Linked DNA regions of Homo sapiens: all the other regions are linked to region 3. The links come from fine-mapping of genetic effects on gene expression. A gene starts in region 3. Each other region holds a variant in brackets. All regions are shown on one strand. Distances are between the middles of the regions. Region 1 overlaps FMNL2 (formin like 2). Region 2 overlaps CACNB4 (calcium voltage-gated channel auxiliary subunit beta 4). Region 3 holds the start of STAM2 (signal transducing adaptor molecule 2). Region 4 has its middle 48 kb from the start of RBM43. Region 5 overlaps STAM2 (signal transducing adaptor molecule 2).

Evidence for each region. PIP is the estimated chance that this variant, and not a neighbour inherited with it, causes the effect. A credible set is the group of variants that fine-mapping cannot tell apart.
Region 1: its variant is the best candidate, but not a certain one, in a credible set for the expression of STAM2 in left ventricle (GTEx, PIP 0.71).
Region 2: its variant is the best candidate, but not a certain one, in a credible set for the expression of STAM2 in substantia nigra (GTEx, PIP 0.61).
Region 4: its variant is the best candidate, but not a certain one, in a credible set for the expression of STAM2 in caudate (GTEx, PIP 0.68).
Region 5: its variant is the best candidate, but not a certain one, in a credible set for the expression of STAM2 in whole blood (TOPMed, PIP 0.54).

The regions. Positions count from the first base shown.
Region 1 is chr2:152,371,484-152,376,591 of GRCh38, forward strand. All of the region lies in intron 1 of FMNL2 (formin like 2), which reads left to right. Among named protein-coding and RNA genes, the nearest start is that of FMNL2, 39 kb to the left of the region's middle. The variant T/A (reference allele first, on the strand shown) is at 2,629.
Region 2 is chr2:151,953,349-151,958,456 of GRCh38, forward strand. All of the region lies in intron 2 of CACNB4 (calcium voltage-gated channel auxiliary subunit beta 4), which reads right to left. Among named protein-coding and RNA genes, the nearest start is that of ARL5A, 130 kb to the left of the region's middle. The variant T/C (reference allele first, on the strand shown) is at 1,990.
Region 3 is chr2:152,173,748-152,178,855 of GRCh38, forward strand. STAM2 (signal transducing adaptor molecule 2) reads right to left here and starts at 2,016. Exons shown (of 14, transcript NM_005843.6): 1 at 1,856-2,016. The coding sequence starts at 1,895. It overlaps LOC105373689 (a long non-coding RNA gene), which reads left to right and starts at 1,786. Exons shown (of 3, transcript XR_923477.3): 1 at 1,786-2,810. RefSeq lists enhancers at 1,554-1,603, 1,654-1,793, 1,954-2,477, 1,954-2,373.
Region 4 is chr2:151,210,893-151,216,000 of GRCh38, forward strand. No RefSeq gene overlaps it. Among named protein-coding and RNA genes, the nearest start is that of RBM43, 48 kb to the right of the region's middle. The variant C/A (reference allele first, on the strand shown) is at 2,990.
Region 5 is chr2:152,137,624-152,142,731 of GRCh38, forward strand. All of the region lies in intron 7 of STAM2 (signal transducing adaptor molecule 2), which reads right to left. Among named protein-coding and RNA genes, the nearest start is that of STAM2, 36 kb to the right of the region's middle. The variant C/T (reference allele first, on the strand shown) is at 2,837.

The DNA.
Region 1 (5,108 bases), 200 kb after region 3:
CATGGTGAATCCCTATCTCTACTAAAAGTACAAAAATTAGCTGGGCGTGGTGCCATGTGCCTGTAGTCCCAGCTACTTGGGAAGCTGAGGCAGGAGAATCGCTTGAACCTGGGAGGCAGAGGTTGCAGTGAGCAGAGATTGCGCCACTGCACTCCAGCCTGGGTGACAGAGTGAGACTCTGTCTCAAAAAAAAAAAAAAAAAAAAAGAAAGAAATGTAATCCCTAATGTGGTGGTATTGATAAGTGGGGTCCTGAGGGTTTTGCCTTCATGCATGAATTGATCCATTCATGAATTAATGGGTTATCATGGGAGTGAGACTGGTGGTTTTCTAGGAAGAGGAAGAGAGACATGAGCTAGCAGACTTAGCCCCCTCACCTTGCGATGGCCTGTACCACCTCAGGACTCTGTAGAAAGTCCCCACCAGCAAGAAAGCCCTCACCAGATGTGGGCCCTCCACCTTGAACTTCCCAGCCTCCATAACTACAAGAAATAAATTCCCTTTCTTTATAAATTACCCAGTTTCAGATATCTTATTATGAGCAACAGAAAATAAATGGAGCCAGGTGACACTACAGCTTCTTTAAGCTCACATGTCGGGTGTAGTATATGGAAGATAAGAGTCCTCAATTTGGTGGGGAGAAATCATACATCTCAGGGTAAGGATTTTTCCGTTGCTAATAAAGGTATTTTAGTCGATATAAATACAAGTACTATTTGGCATGCATTATTAGCCTGTTACCTTTGTTGAGCACTAAGAGTACTCTGTAGGTAGGTAAATTATAGTTAGAGGTCCATCTAAGGAGAGTCTAATTTAGCATTTGTGTCAGATTTATGTTTCCTAATGTGTTGATTATATGGAAGGTTCTTTTGGAAATTTGGTTAGTTGCCTGCCTTCAGATAGCTACATAAATTGCACAGCATGCACCATAGGTGCATTCTTTATATGGTTCATGGGAGGATTTGGTTTATTTTTAGAGTTTGACATAGGGTTCTTTGGGAGAAAGTTTGTTACTGCATCTGGGAAAAGATCCTCTTGGTGATGCATCTTCATCTCACCCATTTATTCTTGGGATGCTTTCTGTGTGTTAATGGAGGGTTTTCACTGCATTGTGCTCATGAAGGGCCTTGAACTCCCCCTTTGTGCTTTAACCTTGGCAGGGTCTGTATGGCTGACCTTGCACTTCTGAGAACTTCTCTGCAGTTCCCTTTGGGCGGCCTGAACATTGGCTGTTTAATACCAATTAAAAGCAAGGGCTGTTCCTCTCAGTGGATTGCTATTAATTACAGCCCGTGTTCCAGTAATCTGAGACAGAGCAGCTTCCTCTGGTTTCATTGAAGGCTACTTTAGCTCTCTGTTTTGGTTGGCTGATAAAAATCTGAGAGGCACATACTGATTTGGAATAGGAAGAGTATTCTGACCCCAAGAAGAGGTATCTGGGAGTTGGAAGATGAGTGCTCTGTTCTTATCGTGTCTTTGGGTTAGGTGGGGCATATAAGGGAACATGGTGAAATCAAACAGTCCTGGACCCATGTCAGAGATCAGGGTTCTAGTTCCAGCCTTAACACTAACAGGTTGTGTAACTTGGAACTAATCATTTCATCTCTTCCTATACCAGTTTACTGGGTTTAAACAAAGTTATCTTGATTGTCCCTTCTGTGTCTAAAATTTTGCTAAAAATTGGTTACTGTTCTTATAAATGATATGAAATATTATGAGACTATTCAAGGTTAATTCTTTAACTTGAGATTTTAAGAATCAGTTTTTTAAAATAAGTTTTTTTGGGCATTTAATGGTATGGGTGAAGTCTGGTGGTCCCTGATGATTGGTTTAGTTACTGGGATATTTTCTCCATGAACAGTTGGGGGGAGTTTTAGTTTGTGCCAGAATGTAGATAGAAGGGTATATTTGGGTTTGGTGTTTCTGAAGCACTTTAGTTCAATGAGATTTTGAAGGAAATCCCTGGATAGAGATTATAGTCATCCCTTGGGTTCTGGGGGATTGGTCTCAGGACCTCCTGTGGATACCAAAATCCATGGGTGTTCAAGTCTCTGATATAAAGTGGCATATTGTTTGCATCTGACCCATGCACATCCGCCCTTATACTTTAAATCACCTATAGATTATCTATAATTCCTAACGCAATGTCTACACATCACTTCATTCTTGTGGATTCAACGTAGTACTTGGCATGTGGCAAATTCAAGTTTTGGTTTCTGGAACCTTGTGGAAATTTTTTTTTTTTCCTGAATATTTTGTATCCCTGCTTTGTTGAATCCGCAGATGTGGAACCCATGGATACAGAAGGCTGACTGTATTTTTTTTTTTAAACTCTCAGAAATCTGGGATGTAAGAGTTCAACTCGATTCATGAAGCATAATTTATTACTATTTTTTTTTTGCACTAGAAATCAGAACACATTAATGGTTGAAGGTTTTTTGGCTTTGAGAAGAGGCTAGGAGGTGTTCTTTGCATACAAAACAGTAGATTTTCCTGTATGTTGTGATTGGTTATATGGGCAGAGGAAAAGAATATTTGAAACTATGGTTGATCTGTGTAATTCTAGGCATATGGAGGCTTTGCCTTTAGGTACTTTTCGCCTTCAGACTGCTCTTAAGGGTAGGAAACA[T/A]CTCAGTTATGTATGTAATAATCATTAAATGAATGTTCCCAAATGAATAAAGAGACTTAATAACAGGTGTAGCGTTAAAAGAGAGGCTGCAAAGGGGAATCCTTCACCCTAAATTCCAAATTCCAAAGTGGAAGAATAACCACTCTGGGGTGGGAGTGTTATTTTCTCAAGTGCTAAAAGGGAGATATGAACTATCCTGCTTGGCCTGTGGGAGAGGGTCATGGTTATTAGGGTTGGGTAATATTTTTGTTACAAATGTGTAGAAGAATGTCATTAATTGTGGCCTTTAGCACGCAGATTTTCTTGATCAGATAATACCTTGACAACTCCAGACAAGTGACTGCTAATCTTGTGTCAGTTGTAAATATGTGTTTGGAAGGTGATATTGAACCAGTGGGTTATTTCAGTCAAGATGTTTGAAAAAGAGGTATACATCAAATGAAAATGACGCGGATTATGGAAAAGTCTTAATTTTAATGGCTTAAAAAAATTCTGCATTAAACCCGAAAAACTAGAGACATAGACCAGCTGGGAGGTACTATGAGAAACTGCTTTACAAATGATTTTCTGTGGAACCCTGTCACCAGCATTTAGTGAAACATGCTTTCCATTTGAATATGCATTTAGATGAGGCCAACTGGCTGCTAGATCATCGTCTAATGGGCCTGTGATCCCACATGAAGATTATTTTCCCTTTGGTCCTAGAACCACTCTCCATCCTGCTCACCCTTATAGACTATATGAGAGGGTCCCTAGGTCTCACTTTCAGGTGGGCTCAGCCAGTGGAAATCAGAGAGGTGTGAGTTCGTGGTATGTATTTTGTCCCTGCTCCCTGCTAGGCTGTCCTGATGCATTTAGACTGAGGTGGTCACTGCTTTTCACTGGTGCTATTGAACTGGAACTATAGTTTCCCATTGGTGAGATGTTGTTACTACAGTTTTTCACATACATGTATATTTCACATACATATATTTTAATTTTTTACATTTATTGTTTCTCCAGTGAGTTAAAGCCTTAGAGGATTGAGTTTACTTTTAGCACCTAAGAATACTACTACCTTTTCATGGAGGAAGATCATTGAAACTGTAAGAGTTTGCAGTTACAGAAGCAGTATCCTCTCTGGAGCACTGAACAGGTGTTGGGGGCCAGAGGATTCAAGCCCTGTCCACCATTCCCTGCTGAGCACCTTCTCTACCAGCAGTAGCTCTTCAGCCTCTGAAGGCATGGCGGAGGCCTGGAGTAGGGCCCTGCCAACCTTGAATGCTCATGCCTGGTAGGTTATGAGGATTAAGTTACATAAGATTGTATGTGCTTAAAATAGGAGTTGGCATAGAACAAGTACTCCTTGATTTTGATCTGGTCTAATTCATTCATATTTAGGATGAAAAAATGGTAGCAATGTTAAGTTTAATTCAGATGACAAGACTTACTAAAAGGTCTTTCTGATACCTCATCTATACATATAGTATTCTACTCTGTGTAGATCATCTAAAATTTCTATAAGTTGGAGATGATCTTGGCTTTTCTGTTTTAAGATTACAATGAAAGACAGTGAAATCTGCAGCTGAATTTAGGGAAGACTCCTTGAAAACATCATCAGTTGGCTTTCTCATTTGGAATACAAATGGACAGTTGTATCCTCCTGCCATTGCTTTGTTATGATTATCTAGGAGTTTTCTTATTTTTTTAAAATGTGACTTTATAGACATTTCAAGTACTATAACATTTAGCCATTGAAGCTCTCTCTCTCTCTCTCTCTCTCTCTCTATATATATATATATATATAATTATTATTATTTTTTGAGACAGTCTTGCTTAGTCCTCCAGGCTGTAGTGCAGTGATGTGATCTCTGCTCACCCCAACCTCTGCTTCCCAGGTTCAAGCGATTCTCGTGCCTCAGCCTCCCAAGTAGCTGGGATTACAGGCATGTACCACCACGCCCAGCTAAGTTTTGTATTTTTAGTAGAGACGGGGTTTCACCATGTTGGCCAGGCTGGCCTTGAACTCCTGGCCTCAAGTGATCCAACCCCCCTTGACCTCCCAAAGTGCTGGGATTACAGGCATGAGCCACTGTGTCCAGCCACTATAATTGATTTTTAGTAAATTCTGTGGAATATACAGCATTTTATTTTTCGATTCATCAGTTGGTGGACGTTTAAATTGCTTCTACTTTCTGGCTATTATGAATAATGCTGCTGTGAGCATTCTTATACACGTTTTTGTGTGGACATATGTTTTCTTAGGAGCTACTCTTACTTTGTTGCTAGCTGAGGCTTCTAGGACTGGGATCCTTCGAACACTGCATGTACCTATAATACTCTTGGAGGAGAGGAGGATTCCTCTGAAGTCAGAAATATCCTCCCTGGAGAATTCTGCAAGGAGTTGGATGGACTCATTGGGGCCGAGGAAGGAGCTTTGAGCCAGGGATGTCTCAGGAATGTGAGAGTTGAAGCACAGCTGTGCAGTGTGGCCTTGGGCA
Region 2 (5,108 bases), 220 kb before region 3:
TGTTCTGTTTCCTCATTCAGCCTGCCATGCTCTCCTTTCAAGCCCTCCAACTCCTCCCTTCCCTGTTTTAGGAAGACAGTCTAGAGTAGGACACTTGGGTTCAAATCCTGGCTTGTCTTCTAGCTGTATGACCCTGGACGAATCATATGACTTTTTTTATGCCTAGAAAATGTGTGACAAAAATATCTACATCATAAGGTCATTGTGAAAATTAAGGGAAAGAATTTGTGTGGAGCACAATTGTCCAAATCCAAACAGTTAGTAAACGGAAAGCATTGTAAGTCCAGTTCTTTTTACAAACACAAAGTCCATCCTCTTACTCTATGCTCCCTCCTGGTGGTTTCAAATGCACAGATCTCCTCCTGATTTCACTCTAAGAATTTTTCTACTAGGAATATTTTCTATTTCTATGACTCTTTTAAGAGTTATCATCTCTAGCACAGTGTTGGAAGTTCCATAGGTACTTGTGAACTTTTCATTTAGATGCTCAGAAAAGAATGCATCTGTAAACAGTCCTTTGGTAACACTCTGACAAACGTGTTCACCCCACATGAAGGCCATCAATAGATATATCCAGGATTAATTTACAAAGCTCAGATGTCTTTACAACAAATTCTATCTGTCTTTTGAACAAATATGTCAACATATCTTCACAGTAAGAACTTAAGGAAGTCACCCAGATGCCTCCCATCTTAACATGAATGACCATGGGGATACAAGGACACATACCTGTGGAAGGGATCTGCCATCTACCTCTTGCAACTGTGACCAGGGTTATCAGTGTGTCCCTGAAGCAACAACCGCAGCTTCACTATAATGTACACTCTGCCTCTCCAACCTTCAGCAAGCTCCTCGTTCTAAACCAGAGTGGCATGGTTTATTACTACCAAAGGAGACCGTCCTATTCCTTAGTTCTTTTCAACATCACACAAAAATTAAGGCTATGAATTAATAGAGTAATTTTATTTAGGCAGAATTATTTCCAAGGAATGTTTCATAAGCAGCTCATAAAGAACAAACTGGGATGATTTGCTTAATTCTGTCATCCATGGGGAAATGTCTGAAGAGCAGATTTTATAGAGAAATTTTCATTGCCAAGAGTGAGAAAAACTAAAATATCTTTGTTCTGTTTCAAATTATTGTACCTTTATGTGTCTGATTTCCTGAAATTTGTTGTTTGTTTGTTTCCATTTGGCTTTAGAGATTAACATGAGAAAGTTCATTTGCGGGGTTCATTCAAATAACTAACCTTGCCTGAAAAGTCACAGAGATTTCGGATATGGCCATCACAGACATAATAACTCTGATAATAATACAGTCACTAAATTATGATCTGAACTTGGAAATAAAAGAGAAGAAGTTGAAAGAATCCTATTTTCAAGACAATATATCTGAATATGTCCTTGCAAATGAGAACAAGAAGAAATAAAGAAACTATGATACACAGACAAGATTATTTCTAAATAGAATGCCTTTCAGCATTTACTGTGACAAGTCAGCACTTTTTTTTTTTTTTTTTTTTTGAGATGGAGTCTCGCTCTGTTGTCTGGGCTGGAGTGCAGTGGGGCGATCTCAGCTCACTGCAAGCTCCGCCTCCCAGGTTCATGCCATTCTCCCGCCTCAGCCTCCCGAGTAGCTGGGACTACAGGCACCCGCCACGATGCCCAGCTAATTTTTTTTGTATTTTTAGTAGAGACAGGGTTTCACTGTGTTAGCCAGGATGGTCTCGATCTCCTGACCTTGTGATCCGCCCACCTCAGCCTCCCAAAGTGCTGGGATTACAGGCGTGAGCCACCGTGCCCAGCCAACAAGTCAGCAACTTTTAAATAAGCACCTCACAATTTCAGAGCTGCACCTGGTTTAATTAATTACACTCGTCATTTCCTCACTGGTTGGTGCAAACCATTCCCATCTTACTATGCACTGAGAACATCAATATCATAGAGCTATAGCATTCATCCACTCATTCAATATTAACTTATTGTGTAT[T/C]ATTGTGCTATGTCTTTTTTAATTCATTCTCTACCCTTGCATAGTTGGAGTTGAGGGAAGGAAGGCAGAAAAGAATGGTAAGACTTGATCCTTGCCCTCTAGAGTCCTATGTTTGCAGAAATAAGATGCAGACACATGAAATGGTGAAGAAGCCATCCAAGACTGCAGGTGGCTAATGCCCAAGTGAATGGGGCAGATGCTGCTATGGGAATTCAGAAGAGGCTGGAAAAGCAGAGGAACCTCATAGAAGAAGTGGAATAAGAGTTGGACTTTGATTGGGTGCAGTGGCTCACATCTGTAATCCCAGCACTTTGGGAGGCTGAGGCGGGAGGCTGAGGTGGGAGGCTTGCTTGGGCCCAGGAGTTTGAACCAGCCCCGGCAACATAGTGAGACCCCATCTCCACAAAATAAAAAATTAGCCAGGTGTGGTGGTACACGCCTGCAGTCTCAGCTACCCAGGAAGCTAAGGTGGGAGGATTGCTTGAGCCCAAGATGTCAAGGCTGCAGTGAGCCATGATTGCACTACTGCCCTCCATCCTGGGCCAACAGAGCAAGGCACGGTCTCAAAAATAAAAAATAGAAAAAAAAAAAAAGAATTAGACTTTGAGCAATTCAAAGTCTATAAAGTCTATAAAGAGGATGTGGGAGAAGAGAGATTCTCAAAAGGAGGGAGTAATGTCCACAATTTTTGTACTTGAGACTGAGCATTGCTTACTCGTACAAACTGACAAGAGCAGGATTATATGGAAATAGCTGAGATATGGCCATTCAGGCCAGTGGAGTGGGATTCTAAAACACCTTGTATCTTCGATATACTTGTAGTATACATCAAATTATTAAAGATGACGCATTTTGATGTGACTGGTGAAGAAATTTATGATCCACACATACCCAAGAACTTGTGCATGAATGTTCACAGCAGCATTATTCATAACAGCCACAAAGTGGAAACAGCCCAAATGTCCATCAATGGATGAATGGATAAAATGTGATATATCCATGTAATGGAATAATATTTGGCAATACAAAGAAATGAAATGCTGATAAAAGCTGCAACATGGATGGATCCTGAAAACATTATGCTAAGTGAAAGAAGCCTACAAAAGGCTGTCTATTGTGTGGTTCCCAATGTACGAAATATCCAGAAGAGGCAAATGCACAAACACACCCTAGGGCTGAGAGAGTTGGAAGGAGATGGGGAGTGGCTGCTAATAGGTATGAGTTTTCTTTTTGGGGTGATTAAAATGTTCTAAATTGGTCGTGGTGATGATTGTAGTTGTACCACTCTGAATATAGTAAAACCCCTGAATTGTACACTTTAAACGGCTGAATTCCTTGGTATGTGAATTATATGCAGTGAAGCTGTTATTAAAGAAACAAACTATCAAGTGTTTACTCTAGGGAATAGGGTCTAGGATTGTAGGCGAGGAGGGAGACTAACACTACCACCAATTATTTTTACAATCAATATAGCTGAGTGTCTCATCATATTCTGGCTCTTTTAAGAATACAGACCTTTTAATTTCCAGCCGGGCACAGTGGCTCATGCCTGTAATCCTAGCACTGTGGGAGACCAAGGCGGTGGATCACCTGAGGTCAGGAGTTCAAGACCAGCCTGACCAACAAGGCGAAACCCAGTCTCTATTAAAAATACAAAAATTAGCCGTTAGCTGGGCGTGGTGATGCATGCTTGTAATCCCAGCTACTTGGGAGGCTGAGGCAGGAGAATCACTTGAACCTGGGAAATGGAGGTTGCAGTGAGCCGAGATCGTGCCACTGCACTCCAGCCTGGGCAACAGAGTCAGACTCCATCTCAAAAAAAAGAAAGAATATAGGCCTTTTAATTTCCTAAACCTGCTAACCCCCAATTTTAAATTCACTTTGATTTTTTCAAAGAAAAAAAAAGTAGAGTGGCTGGGCGTGTGTGTGTGTGTGTGTGTGTGTGTGTGTGTGTGTGTGTGTGTCCCTTGGGAATCCCTGATAAAATATATTGTGTTCAATCATTTCTGACCATTCCCTAGATTCCTCTTGATTCCTGGAGGAATTAAAGTTATTGAATTTCAATTCATTCCAACAACCATTTATTGAGTGCCCATCTTGAGGCAAGCAAGGGTAGGGTAAGGATAGGGAGATGAATAAACCAATTACATTTTATTTAAAGAAAGACATTCATACTTCAAAGTGCTTACCACCCCAAATAAGTGGACAAGAAGCTAAAAGAACAGGGAAACTAAGTGCTGTGTGCACTGTCACAAACTCTCGAGCTGACCAAGACAATAATTTGACCCAGTATTTCTCAAAGAATTTACATGAAAGTGATTTGGGGAGCGTTTGCCAAAAATATGAATCCTAAGCCTTACTCCAAACTAACTGAATCAAAGTCTCCTAAGAGGGAGGCCCCAGAAATATATATACTGTATCTATTTAACGTTAACTTCACTCTGTCCCACAAAATCCTTCCAGTCTACAACACTGAGATGGTTTGCAGTGATTATGAGGCCTGGTGTAAATAACTAAACCAGCATTTCCCTAATTGTATTCTGTAGTATACTAGTTATTCAAGTACTTAATAGGTATTCTTTAGGGAAAAAAATGGATTCTGAGATCAAGTAGGTTTGGAATATCTTGGGGTTAAATAAAATTTAATTGGTTTATTTATTGTGGAATGCTAACAGATATTAGTGGGCTACTGGGTGCTGTGAATCTTTTGAGAAAGGGACGGAGTATGGTGATTATCAAGCTTATTTGACTAGGGACCTGTTTTTTTCACATGTATCAACAGGCGCATAAATTAATGGCTAGAAACTCATCTACCACATATAAGAAGTATGAGAGACTCTGGAAAATGTTACAATCTACTTCTAAATAGAAAAAGAAATATTTAATGTAAAAGGATAATATATGGCAAGCTTCCTCTATAGTTTCCAAACATGGCATAATAGGGTATATGAGGATAGGTACAGGCCCGGAACAGATAGAGCCATAACCGATTATTTGGCAGCAAGTTCCTGGTAACCGGGAGTCCCAGCTGTCTAGAACGAAACTATTTCATGATCTTGGGATGAAGTCAGTAACTTTCTTAGCCAGAAACCAATGGCTAAAGGGTTGAGGCCTTCAAT
Region 3 (5,108 bases):
TAATATATAATTTTTCTTCTATGATATACGTGCAAGTCCAATTTGAGCTCTTTAGTATTTCATTCTACTTTTTCTAATTCCATTCTCTTGTCCAGAAGTTACAGGAGGGCCTCAAATTCATTCTTTCACCCTTAAAATGCCTTTGGGGTTCTGAATTCAGTCATGCTTAAGCTAATATGTAACTACTTGAAGCTCTGGCTTATGGCACTGGCCATAAAATAATCTAGACACAGTTTTTTTGTTTGTTTGTTTTTTTAATCTCAACAGCAGTGCCTCCTTTACAACTGTAGGACTAAACTGTGATCCACTAAACCAATGCTGGGGCCTCGGGAGCCAGGCAGGGAAAGGTTTAGAACAGAACAGACAGAGCAACTCTGCCTACTTGTACCAGAGAATTTTTCCATCAGAAAACAATGAACTTTCAAGAAAAATTTATATTGAAGAAAAGAATTCACGGTTTTTAAGTTTTAAAATCATTTGTCTAATTCTATTTTGCGCCTTCTGTTTTATTTCATTAGAACAGAATCAAAGTGTTCATAATAGCAATTTTTTAAAAGTACAGGTTGCACAAAGGTTGTATGATTCAAACAAAAGAATACTGCAATGAGGCGTTCCAAAAGGAAACAGTGAGCCTTAAGAGTGATGTTTCCCAGATTTACGCCAGTCACCTGTATTCATCCACCAAAAAAAAAGTTTAATGAAGTAAGGAACATACATATTTGAACTATTTACATATATTATTTGACTCAAACATGTTTTTTAAAATGGCTTAGGGGATTACACAACGTATCAGAATAGGGCACTTTCTACAGTCTCCTAATAACCAAATGTTAACTATGAAACAGGGGAATTACTGCTGAGATGTGCAGTATTCTTCTGAGTCTCCCCGCCCCAACCCCATTTCCAAGTTCTAAAAATTTACCTAGGGTTCTGTTAACTACTGCTACAAAAACAAACAAAAAACAAACCTGTAGTCCCAGCTACTCGGGAAGGGGAAACGGAGGTGGAGGCTGAGGTGGGAGGAATTCTAGTCGCACCTGGGCAACATAGTGAGACCCAGACTTTCGAGAATACATACATATATTTCTCAGTTTGTTTTAGTGTTACTCAAATTTCCTAAATAATTTCGTATATATCTTATCCATGTTTTTCTCATTCTATAGTCACTGAGAGACCAGCGCTTTATGACTGCAACATGTAAAATACTTGTTGTTCTGGAGTGTTTTGAGACTGGAGATTTCCTTTTCATACTCTAAAACCGAACATCTCCTAGCACCCGCGCAATCTTTGCAATCCGGGGATGAAGAGCAACACCTTTACAATTGTAATAAATCTTAAAGCTACCCTATCAGGGATTGAATGCATGAGTAATATAAATAATGGGGAAGTAAGTTCTTCCTATTCAATGCGGTTGTCTAGGTGTCAAGTGTCTAGTGTTGGGCTTCTCTAGACAGCAGGGTCTCCACTGCTGCATCATCTTCAGAAAACGATGGGGCAAAGACGGAGGTAACCAGCTGTCGAACGAGCAGGAAGTTTTTAATCACCAACTCCACAACTACTTAATCAGTCCAGTCTCCAGCGAGCCCTAGGCTCTTCCCAAATCCTACGCTTGGCAAGGAGAACGGCCCTTTGAGGGTCCCCAAACTCAGGCGGCAGGAAGCACTCCCCAGACCGCTAGCGACGCGCCGAGGTTGCCCCAGAAAAATCCCAACGTCGAAGGAGCGGGCGGCACCGCCCCTCCCCTCCCTTCGCTTTGCTTCCTAGTCCCCGGAGTCGCTACCGCCCACTTTCTAGCCGGACAAACAGCAGTCCAGGGCCAGGCACACAGCAGTCCAGGACCGGGCACAGCACTCACCCACGTCTTGCTCGAAGGGGTTGGCGGTGAACAAAGGCATCTCGCCGGCGCCCGAGCCCTAGTCGCTGCTGTCTAGCTGACACTCAGCAACTGCTACCCGCCGGGTGACCCGCGGCCGCGGCTCCCTAGACCGCTCCGCTTCGGCCTCCGTCCCTGCACTTCCGCCACCGCACCTGCCCGGCTCTTGCCTGACAGGCCGGCTCGGAGTCCACCCTTCGATCCCGCGCTCCTGTCCCAACTTTTCTCCCGGGGCGAGATCCCTCCGACCATGGGCGTCCTCCCAAGGCCTTTGTCGCTGCCCCTGTCCCAGACTTTTGTAGGGGTCAGGCGGCCGCTACGGCCACCTTTCCAGCGCTAGGACCCCGGCTAGCCACGAAGCCGGGGACCTTCGGAGCCGGAAGTAGTCCCGCCTGGAACTGGACGACCCCGGAAGCTGCAGTGCCAGCGGCGGCGCGGCAGGGGGCGCGGTTACCCGTGGTTTTTCGCGTTGGACGACGGGCTCTGAGGGCCAAGTTCTTGTCACGAATTTAGTTTGTTTCAGAGCGGCAGGACTCGTAGCTAGAGAACGAGGACCCACGACGCGTACGCGTTACAGTCCTGTTTCCCTAGAAACGGAGCTGCCGGCGCGGAGGTGGCTTTGAGATTCTGCGAAAGACCTGACTGCTCTTCAACAATTATTGTGTTGCACCCTCCCAGGCGCCCAGTCCAAACCCCGTCAGAATAACCACCCGGGACAGCGGTGGTCGAAGTAACTACGCCTAACTTTTCGCTTTCCATCGTGTCCCCTCCATAAAAACACTGCTGGGCCCCCGGAATCCAAAGGCGAAGGAGGCACACTCCCTGCCTTAGACTTGTTGAGAGTTTTATAGGGGCAGTGCATAACGTACATGATGGTGTATGACGATTCGGATGGTAGTACGAGTCATAAACTCAAATTCCAACAGCATCCAGCCAGGTATTTAAATGAATGCAAAAGCCCAAGCACCCTTCCCACCCACATATTCTCTGTTCCTCTTAGAAAACTGTAGTAATGATTATGTTGCCTGTCTCTCCTCCTCATTAGATTATAAACTCCCTGATAAGTTTTGGTCACTACTATATCCCCAGCGTCTAAAACAGTGTCCCAAGTAATAGACGCTCAATGCTTTTCGAATGAAGCTGTAACTTTCTAACTGAACAGTGCGTATCTAAAGATGTCAACTACTGGTAAATTGCAGCCATTTATTGAAATGTGGGTCCTACTAGAGTTTGCAATTTTTCAATGATGTTTAAATGTTGAGAATTACTCCAACATTTTAAATAATAGATTAATCAAAACCATTTTACAAACTCTAGTATAAAGACCTGATGCTATAGAGAGCTCATACACATTCAGAAAGGTGGTTGCATTTTATAAAGTTCGGGGCACAAATGAGAAGGAATCGTGCAGAAGGGGCTGTTTTTCATAGAACGTTGAACCTAGGGATGTTCAAGATAAATTGGGAGGCCGGGCATGGTGGCTCACGCATGTAATCCCAGCACTTTGGGAGGCCAAGGCGGGCAGACTGCTTGAGGCCAGGAGTTCAAGACCAGACTGGCTAACATGGCGAAAAACCGTCTCTACTAAAAATACAAAAATTAGCCAGGCATGGTGGCGCAAGCCTGTAATGCCAACTTCTTGGGAGGCTGAGGCACGAGAATCACTTGAGCCCAGGAGGCAGAGGTTACAGTGAGCCAAGATCAGGCAACTGCACTCCAGCCTGGGCAACAGAGCAAGACTCTGTCTCGAAAAAAGAAAAAAAAAAAAGACTTAGAGATTTTTTGGACAGATAAAGACTTTTTGTCTAAGACTTAGTGTTGGAATGGAAAACAAGGCTGACTAGGTATAAGAGGAAACAGATTGACAAGAATTTTAAAGGGCAAGCTGGGAATTTTTTATTTTGATTAAGGCACTCAATAATTATTTAAGGATATTGGGTAGCAGAATAGTAAAAAAAAATTTTTTTTGAGATGGAGTCTCACTCTGTTACCCAGACTGGAGTGCAGTGGCGCGATTTGGGCTCACTGCAAGCTCCGCCTCCTGGGTTCACACCATTCTCCTGCCTCAGGAGAATGGCCAAAACTGGCCATAGACAAAATCTCTGCAGCACTGTGACATGTTCGTGATGGCCATAATGCCCACGCTGGAAGGTTGTGGGTTTACTGGAATGAGGGCAAGGAACCCCTGGCCCTTCCAGGGTGGAAAACCACTTAAAGGCCTTCTTATGCCACAAACAATAGCATGAGTGATCTGTGCCTTAAGGACATGCTCCTGCTGCAGTTAACTAGCCCAACCTATTCCTTTAATTCGGCGCATCCCTTCGTTTCCCTTAAGGGATACTTTTAGTTAATTTAATATCTGTAGAAACAATGCTAATGACTGGCTTGCTGTTAATAAATACGTGGGTAAATCTCTCTTCGGGGCTCTCAGCTCTGAAGGCTGTGAGACCCCTGATTTCCCACTTCACACCTCTATATTTCTATGTGTGTGTCTTTAATTCCTCTAGCGCCGCTAGGTTAGGCTCTCCCCGACCGAGCTGGTCTCGGCAGCCCTTGTTGAAGGAATACTTATGGCAATGGTGATCACCGCTATGGTAGCTACCATTAAATTACTCGTTGTGATTGGTTGTCCCGCTTTCCTCAGGTTTTCTTCTGCCATCTGTGACAGCTTCTTGGTCTGTCCCCAGGTGGGTGGCTGTGTTTGATGGGTATAGCTCACGACAGTTGGGGTCCTTCTCAGTGTCAGTCTCAACATGGCTGCAACCGGGGGGGGGGGTCCTTGGGATCCTCCCAGAATCTCTTCCTTGGCATCTGGCTAATGATAAGGTTTCAGGTGTCTTGATGGTATCCAAATCGGCTGTTGATTTTGGCCTGGAGAAATACAGCATAACCTCTACCCCAAGTTATTATTTTACCTATTTCCCAACTTTTTGTTACCGGATCTCTCCACCAAATCAGTTGTTCTGCTTCTGTCTTTGCATCTGGTTTCTGTAGATGCTGTTCAGCTGCTGATAACATCTGGCCTTCTTTGGGCAGGCTCAAAACATTTAAAGTTAATAATGCTAGATTCAATTGTGTATGGGCTGTCCCATAATCCCTATTTCTCCCCCTTTTTTGTTTTTGTCATTAGTTGTTTATCTGTATGAAATAGTAACAGCATTTTTAATTAATTGTGTGGAATGAACCACGTATGAAGCAGCAGAAATGACATTAATAGGCATATTAAAAGCAGTCC
Region 4 (5,108 bases), 960 kb before region 3:
AGGCTGCACATCGTGACTTCCAACAAGTACAGCAAGCAAACGGGGGAAAGAGTAACTTGACAGTGGAGAAACCTGATAAACACACCTAAGCGAGGTGCTCCTGGTAAACGTCAAGAGTGATAAGTCATGTGGATAGCATGCGCCCTTAATAGGATGTGATGAGACTGGCACTTTACCTCCTCAAAACCCATAATCCCAGCCTAATCATCAGAAAAACATCAGGCAAATCTCAGTTGAGGGGCATTCTACAAAATGCCTGACCAGTACTCCTTGAAATTGTCAGGGTCATCAAAAACAAGGAAAGTTTGTGAAACTGTCATAATCAGGAGGAGCCTAAGGAGTTGTGATGTCTAAGTGTAATGTGGTCTCCTGGATGGGAAACTGGAGCAGAAAAAGGACTTTAGGTAAAAACTCAGGAAATGTGAATAAAGCATGGACTTTAGTTCATAATGATGTATCCATACTGGTTCCTATATTGTGACAAACATGCTATACTAATGTAAAATGTTGATAATAGGGCAAACTGGGCATGGACTAATGAGAACTCTGTACTGTCTTCACACTGTTTTGTAAATCTGAAACTATTCCACAATTAAAATGTATTTAAAGATAACAAAAAGGAAATACAGATAAATGAGCTGATGTATTTTTTTTTTGTTTTTTGTTTTCTGTTTTTGAGATGCAGTCTCACTGTTTTGCCCAGGCTGGAGTGCAGTGTCATGATCTCAGCTCACTGCAACCTCCACCTCCTAGGTTCAAGCAATTCTCCTGCCTCAGCCTCCTGAGTAGCTGTGATTACAGGCACGCACCACCATGCCCGGCTAAGTTTTATATTTTTAGTAGAGACAGAGTTTCACCATGTTGGCCAAGCTGGTCTGGAACTCCTAACCTCAAGTGGTCCACCTGCCTCAGCCTCCCAAAGTGCTGTGATTACAGGCATGAGCCACTGTGCCGGGCCTGAACTGACGTTATTTCTGCAATGCTACTCAGCAAACAAAGTGATAAAGTAGAGCCTTGACACTTACAAATTTAATAGTCATTGGATACCTTGATTAATAAATTAGCTGGGCAAATAATTTTAAATTGGAGATCATTTTCTATTATAATTTTGAAGACATTTCTCCATTATCTTAGAGTTTCCAGCATTGCTGTTGCAATATTGATGCCATTCTAACTTTGAATTCTTTTTTATCTCTCTTTGTAAAAAAAACATAAAATAAAATTGGTAGAGTTCCCTTATTGTCCCTGGTGTCCTGAGATTTCATCATGCTGCACCATTGTGCAGTGAATGAGGTGGACCCTTCAACCAAGAAATTCATGTGCTTCAGTTCTGCATAATTTTTGTAATTATTTTGTTGATGAATTCCTCTCCTCTATTTTATCTGTTTTCTCTTTGTAAAATTCCTATTATTTTGGATTTTAGGTTTCCTGACGTTGTGCTCTAATTTTCTTATCTTTTTTCTCTCATTTTTCATCCTTTTTCTCTTTTTTCCACTTTCTGAGAAATTATTCAGCTTTACATTTCAACCATTCTTTCAGGTTTTCCCAACAACTCTTTGTTTTTGTTTTTACTGATCTTTTTGTTACAATTATTCTATTCTTGCTTCCTGTATGGAATCTCCTATTCTCTGAGGTTTTGTTTTGTTTTTGTTTTTGTTTTCAGATAGAGTCCCTTCTGTTGCCCAGGCTGGAGTACAGTGGCGCGATCTCGGCTCTCTGCAACCTCCACTGCCCGGGTTCAAGCGATTCTCCTGCCTCAGCCTCACAAGTAGCTAGGAATACAGGCACACGCCACCATGCCCAGCTAATTTTTGTGTTTTTAGTAGAGACGCGGTTTCGCCATGTTGGCCAAGCTGGTCTTGAACTCCTGACCTCAGGTAATCTGCCTGCCTCAGCCTCCCAAAATGCTGGGATTACAGGCATGAGCCACCATGACCGGCCTTCTCTGAGGTTTTAAGTGATAGTTTTTGTAAAGTTATCTTATCCCTGAGTTGTTTGGTGTTTTATGTTGTTTACTACATACAAGAAGCTTTGCTCTGATGCCTGATAATTGCAGATTGTCTGTACATACTTAAGAGTGAAGCTTTACAAGTCGATTAAAACCTGGAATATTTTATATTAAATAAAAAAGGAAATCTTGTCACATGCTATACAACAAGGATGCAACTTGAGGACATTATGCTAAGTGAAATAAGCCAGTCACAGAAGGGCAAATATTGTATGAGTCCACTTATGCAAGAGATCTGAAGTGGTCAAACTCATAGAAACAGAAGTGTGGTGGTTTCCAGGGAAGAGGGGGAAATGGGAGTTGTTCAATAAGCATACAGTTTCAGGTTTGCAGGATGAAAATGTTCTGGAGATCTGTCACACAGCAATGTGAATATTCTGAAATACTTACTGAACTCTACACTTAAAAATGGTTAAGATGAAAAATTTCATGTGTTTTTTTACCACAATTAAATTTGTTTACATTTATTAAAAAGTTGATTAGAAGTTTTGAGCACAAAGGTGGGGCTGTTTTGCCATGGGCTCCAGTTCCAAGCGATGAGGACAGCTATTTCCCTAAGGAATCCCTAGCGTTAATGTCATTAGGTCTCTCCTCTTGGAAAGCCATGGGCTGCTGAGATTCCCCAGAGAATGATCATCCGAATTCCTCTCCTATAGGGTATGGGACTGGCTGCTGGCTTTCTGTGAGGTTTGTAGGGAAAGACAGTGATTCAGTGATTTCAGAATTGAGTATACAAATTTTACCTTCTTCCCTGCCTTCAGTATGGGCCCCTGTCCTCAATTGTGCTTGGAATCCTTTCTACGTTACCCCTTCCATGTTACATTTCCTGGGAATATAGCTTCAATCTTCTTCCATGATGATGGAAGAGCAAGCCGTCATACAACTCTGTAGAATCGGGACGCAGGCCTAGGGAGCTTAACTGCTTCTGAAAGAAATCAGACTACTTTCTTTGCACTTACAGAGGTATCCGCTCTAATTAAG[C/A]CTTAGGGATTCAACTCAGTGTAAATCAATTTGTTTCTCAACTTTCTCCACTGCTTAGTGAGGATTCAGTCATGTCAGATCTGCTTAATCAATTACCACTTTCCCATCTACTTATCAATTTTCAAAATTTTATTCATTTTCTCTCCCATTCTCTTGTCCTCAAGTGTTTATGCCTTAAAAAAAAAAAAAAAAAAAAAGTTTAGGCCGGGCGCAGGGGCTCATGCCTGTAATCCCAGCACTTTGGGAGGTTGAGGCAGGTGGTTCATTTGAGGTCAGGAGTTTGCGACCAGCCTGGCCAACATGGAGAAACCCTGCCTCTACTAAAAACACAAAAACAATTAGCTGAGCCTGGTGGTACACGCCTATAATCTTAGCTACTTGGGAGGCTGGTGGGAGGCAGGTGGGAGGACCGCTTAAACCTGGGAGGTGAAGGTTGCAGTAAGCCAAGATTGCACCACTGTACTCCAGCCTGGGTGACAGAGCAAGACTCCGTCTCAAAAAAAAAAAAAGTTTAGATTAGAGGGGCTTAGGGTTCGACAAGAGGGTGATAGCTATTGCCTATATTCATCCACCATCTTTACCCAGAAAAGTTGGCTTGTTTTCTATAATTTCAGACTTAATAACTAATTTCTTGGTTGGAGGTGATGTAGTGGAAAGTATCAGAAATTTAGAATCAGTCAACGTGAGCCAGATTCTGGATCTGCCATTTTCTTGTGTGACCACAAGTTAACTAGCTTCTCATATCAGTTTCTCTGTTTATAAAATGAAGATGTTAACACATAGGCTTCTTCTGAGGATAAAGTGAAAAAAACATATGAAAGTCATATGTAAAATAACATATGTAAATCTCATGTAAAACTTAATGCTTGCTTAATAAATACTCTTCTTTCCGTTCCAATATTAGTTGTTCAATTTACCTTCCACTAGCAACTGTAACATTCTGGTAATAACCTCATTCTGGGCTCAGTTTCTACAATATTATTCAAATCACACTAGCCATCCTCTACTGGCTGTACTTGCCACCTTGAGATCTGCTGTCCGATTACGACATTCAGTCTCAATTGGGTGCTGTGTCATTTTGTTGGAATAAGTGCAAATTTTAAATTTTAAAAAAATTCAAAAATGAATGCATTACTTTTGAGTCATTTAATCAAATCTACTTTTACCTTACTATTGATATTTCCAAAATTTCCCTTAAAAAGTAAAATGGACTTTGGTTAGATATCAAGATCTGGACAATTGTGTAGAACTTTAACCATCTGAGCCCAGAGTTTTGTTCATACCCTTGGAGATGCAAAGCAGCTGGTTACTGTCCTCATGTTATTACATTTTCTCCTAACCCACTCAGTGATAACATACCAAACCATCTGCAGCAAAAACATGCCAAGGTTTTACAACAAACTGGGCACTAAGCATTGCTCCATATAGACCATCAAGAAATTCACAAATCAGTGGCTTAAAGACTTTATTAAATTTACAAATATTTCTTGAGTACCTACTATGTTCCACTAATTGTCATAGGTATTTGGGATACACGAGTCAAAGAAACACATTTAAATCAAGAATCCTTGCATTCATAGAGCTTATATTTTAGTGAAAGAGATAGACAATAAACACAATAAGTAAGTTATAAAGTGTGTGTTTTTTAAATAGAGCAGGGAAAGAGGATCAGAACTGCTAGAAGAGGTATTGCAATTAAAATAGACAAGATTTCTTATGTACTCCAGAGATCACCACTAAATCAGTGATAGTTGTTTGGTCACAAGTAACAAACAACTTTAAACAGAACATGAATATATTAGGTAGATATCAGGGGACATACAAAATTGATAGCAATACCAGAGAAACAAGTCGAAAAAAGGTTAGGAATCAGGGTAGCTCCAAAGCAAGTGGAATTAATCAACATTCTCCACACCTACCATCACTGGAACGAATAATCTCCTAGCATCTCGTACCCTTTCTGCATTGCTCCAATCAAGACTGGAAGTTCCAGGAGCATCTGATTAACCAAGCTGGAGTCACTTGCCTGCTTAGTGGGTAGACAATCCCAAAAAGAAAATTTCCAGAGGGAGAGTTAATTCTTCAAAAGGAAATTAGTGTGTGTGCCAAAGTAAGGGAA
Region 5 (5,108 bases), 36 kb before region 3:
CAATCAAATTTGGCAATCTTTTCTTTCATGGCTTATGCTTTTACCCTTTTCTACCCTTAAACTCCTAAATCTATTCTCCTATATACTTAACTGTAGTTTTAGTTTTTTTATTTTTTTTTTCCCTCTCCCATGTTTAGGTCTTTAATTCATTTGGAATGAAATTTTAATGTACTATGTGAAACTGATCAAAATTTTATCTGTAGTATAAAAAGAGCCATTCATCACAGCAAAATTTATTAAATAGTCCACCATTTTTTCTAGTAATTTATAATACCCTACCTTTCAAACAGTAATCTATTCATGAGCCTATTTCTAGACTCCATTCTGTTGCAATAGTCCATGTATCTGTTCACACATCTTGTTAATGTACCTTAATATCTGCCAGGGAAAATACCCTTTCTATGTTACTCTTTCTCATTTATTGCACACCTTCAAATTTCCACATTAATATTAAATTACTTTTCAAGTTCTCTGGGGAAAAAGTCCTGTTGGGATTTGAACTGGAAATGCACTGAAATTATGCAATAATATAAGAAAAAAGAAATCTTTGCAATATTAAGGTTTCTTCCCTATGAACATGGTATCCTCCATTTACATTTATGTAAAACATAATATGTAAAAATATATTTATATTCTTTTATAGCTTTCAAATAATTTTATAATTTAATCCATAAAGACCTTACATATCTTTGTTAGGCTTATTCATTTCTAGATCATTTATATAATTTTTGTTACTACTGAGAATGACTTTTTTTTACTACATTTTCTAAAAAGTTGTAATTAAAGCATACTACTGAGTTTTGTATGTTGAGCTTGTATCCAACAACCTTTATGAACTCCTACCACTTGTAATAGTTTATCCATCGGACTCTTGAACTTTCTATATGGAAAATCATAGTATCTGGAAATAATGATAATTTTATCTATTCCTTTCCAAAAATCTGACTTATTGAATAGACATTCTTAAGTATGAGTCTTATGGATGAATTAATGTCTATGATTATGAAACATCATTTCATTTATGAGCACTAGAAAGAGACGAAAGAGTTATATATCATCCAAGTTCTTAAAGCCAGAAAATAACTGATGTATTGATGTACTGACAGTTCTAAGATATCATATCTGCAAATATCTATGGAAGATAGGAAAAATTTTCTTTCTCTTACAAACACATTTTTAAGTTAACTTTTCATTTTGAAAAGGAGAGCTGAACTTGAGAAATTTTTGTATAAAACGAGAAAACCCAAACCTGTGAAATGGATGCAAGCGTTTTATATGAACCTACCAACAACTGTATGTGTGTACCCTTCCTTAGTGGTTCTACCAATATAGGATAATTTTCCTCCCAGCCACTACTACAAACTCTTTGATGAAGCATAAAAGTAGGCAAAGCAACCAAATTGACAACTCCTTCCCAGCCCTAATCCAGCTCTATATTCTCTCCACTGACTACAAGTTGATTCTATGGAATGTTGATAGCAAAAAAACATTGTTCAAGCTTAAATTCTCAAATTAAAGAAATTGGCACTCTAATTTTACACAAACCATTTAATAATTAAAGAAAATTTTAATGTAGCATTTATATTTAGAGCTTTTTATATTAAAAAAAGAATAAATCACAACTGAGTGAAAAACAAAAAATGATACAAGTGTAAAGAACATAAACCTCACCTTCAACAAACATTATTCAGCTAACATTTATGAAAACCTACCATGGAGAAAATAGTACCTTCAGGCTAAGCACTGAAATTACAAAGATAATTAAGACACCATTTGTGCCCTCAAGAAGTTTAAAATCTAGCACAAAGCTGTAGTCCCAGCTACCCAGGAGGCTGAGGGAGGAGGCCTGCTTGAGGCCAGGAGTCCAGGCTGTAGCGTGCTATGCTCACGCCTGTGAATAACCACTGCACTCCAGCCTCGGTAACCCAGTCATACCCTATCTATAAAAACAAGAAAAAAAAATCTAGCAGTGTTTTACAATCTCTCCTACAGAACTGACTAAAAATATGTTATCTTGCTTTACCTTCAGAATTTTTCTCCTTTCTCCTTCCTCCCACCCAAGGAAGTCATGAGCCTCTTCAGAATCAACTGATTTAGTAGAGAGACATACGTAAAGAAGCGCAGTTTGCCCTCTGTATCTGGCAAGTGCTACATCCATGGACTCAACAAACCCCAAATCAAAAGTATTCATGAAAGATAAACAAAAATGACAATAGAACAACAAAAAAAATTTTTAATACAATATATTGTATTTAAAAATACAATATAATGATTTGCATAGCATTTACATTGTATCAGGTACTATAAGTTATCTAGAGATAATTTAAAGTATACAGGAAGATGTGTGTAAGTTATATGCAAATATGACGCCATTTTATATCGAAGACTTGCATCTGTGGATTTTGGTATCAACAGGGGTTCTGGAACCAACTCTCTAAGGAACTGAGAAATGACTCTATTTAAAATACAGTATGAGAAATGCTGTTACATATGTTCAGAGAGCTATAGCTCAAAGAAGAGAACTCTTAACTCCACTGGGAGCTAAAAAGCAGAGAAAGGTTGAAAGGCTTCTCAGAGGATATAAAATCTGACACGGGTTTTGAAGGTTAAGTAGGCACTTGCCAGGAGGAAAAGAAAATTAAGTCTGTGGAAATAAAAATGACATTTTGCCCTCCTGCCATTATTGATAAGCAAGAAAACAAGGCACGAACAAACAAAAAACTCTGCACTCTGAGATAAAACAAAAAATGTTACCATATTTAGTTTTAGGTCTCAAAGTACATAAAAACTTGAGCCTTTCCTTTTAACTACTGATTTCTTAACAAAAAGTACTCAC[C/T]TGCTAACTTTTGCAATGACAATGACTGAAGGTAGTGATGTCCTTTATGGATATAATTATCACGTGAGAAAACTGCTATTTCTACCATGAACATATAAATAGCAAACCTGGAAAAACCTGGTAACCTTGTGGGGGTCTTTTCCTTAAAATACCTGTTTTACTTTTTAACATGGGGAGGCAACTTTTCTAAAGCCTGGACTCCCTTGCAAACTGTCCTTGAAAGTAAAGTTCTTTTCCTTTTCTAAATGCTTTTACCTCCTTCAGCAGGGCTTTCCAGGCAGACAGAACCAAAGGTGCAATGCTACAGAGGACTAAGCAGAAAATGGCATTTTTGGAACTGCAAGAATTCCACTTGATTATTTGAAATGGTACACAGAAAACAAACATGGAGTGGGCCAGGCACAGTGGCTCACGCCTGTAATCCCAGCACTGTGGGAGGCTGAGGCGGGTGGATCACTTGAGGCCAGGAGTTTGAGACCAGCCTGGCCAACATGATTAAACCCTGTCTCTACCCCTAAAAATACAAAAAATTAGCCGGGCATGGTGGTGCACACCTGAATTCCCAGCTACTCAGGAGGTTGAGGTGGGAGAATTGCTTGAACCTGGGAGGTGGAGGTTGCAGTGAGCCAAGATCACGCCATTGCACTCCAGCCTGGGCGACAGAGTGAGACCCTGTCTCAAAAAAAAAAAAAAAAAGAAAAGAAAAGAAACATGGAGTGGTAAGATAAAGCTAAAAGTGTAGAAAGTAAAACGCTTTTCTTGATATACTCCATTAATAAAAAATGTGCGCCTTTGGGCCGGCACAGTGGCTCACGCCTGTAATCCCAGCACTTTGGGAGGCCGAGATGGGCAGATTACCTGAGGTCAGGAGTTTGAGATCAGCCTGGCCAACATGGCGAAACCCTCTCTACTAAAAATACAAAAATTAGCTGGGCATGGTGGCGCATGCCTGTAATCCCAGCTCCTGGGGAGGCTGAGGCAGGAGAATCACTTGAACACAGGGGGCGGGGGTTGCAGTGAGCTGAGATGGCACCACTGCACTCCAGCCTGGGCGATAAAGCAAGACTCTGTCTCAAATAAATAAATAAGAAATGTGCACCTTTTCTATCAGCTCAATGTTTTTTTGTTTGTTTGTTTGTTTGTTTTTTTGAGACAGAGTCTCGCTCTGTCGCCCAGGCTGGAGTGCAATGGCACGATCTCGGCTCACTGCAACCTCCGCCTCCCGGGTTCCAGCGATTCTCCTGCCTCAGCCTCCCAAGTAGCTGGGACTACAGGCGTGCGCCACCATGCACGGCTAATTTTTGTATTTTTAGTAGAGACAGGGTTTCACCATATTGACCAGGGTGGTCTCGAACTCCTGACCTCGTGATCCGCCCGCCTCAGCCTCCCAAAGTGCTGGGATTACAGGTGTTAGCCACCACGCCCTGCCAGCTCCATGGTTCTTAAATGGAGATCCAAGAATGATATATTTTCAAGGGACTTCAAGGGACTTCTGTGTGTGAAAATTTTATGCTTCAAATTCCACAAAAGTATAAAAACAATGAATAGAGTCATTTTCTGGATGACTTCCTTTTAACCGAAGACTGTCATTTAACTTTAGCATGCAAGTTTGCATTTGTCTACCAGCGATTACCAATCACCTAAAATGACAATATTTTACCCATAAGCATGCTTACAGCAACTATAAAAGTAGGGTGTCCTATCGTCAAAATGACAGCAATTGACCTACAAATTCCATCACATTCATGTTGAATTCTCTTAGCAGTTACAAATAAAAAAGTTCTTTTTTGAGGTGATAAATCTTAACTGAAAATTGTTTTGTGAGCAGTAATTTATTTTAGAAAATTTTGTTATATAAAGTAATGCTCTAAATTAAAATCTTAGACAAAACCACTCATTTTGTTTTTATTTTATAAATATCTTTAACTTCATAGTTGTATAAGAGTATCAAAACGGTAAACCTAAGTTCTTTTGTAAGTACTCTAACTAAAAGACACTCATAAGCCTGACATTTCAGACTGTCAGTGTTCAGAGCCCACACTATCTCTCCATCTTTACAGACAGTGTCAAACTCATGATGGCATGACTTACGATGGTGCAAAAGTGATACACACTCAGATACCCATAAACCATTCTGGTTTTTACTTTCAGTACAGTATTCAATAAGTTACATGAGATATTCAATACTTTATTATAATAAATAGGTTTTGTGTTAGATGATTTTGCCCAACTGTAGGCTAATATAAGTTGAGAAACATCTGTATTTCTATCT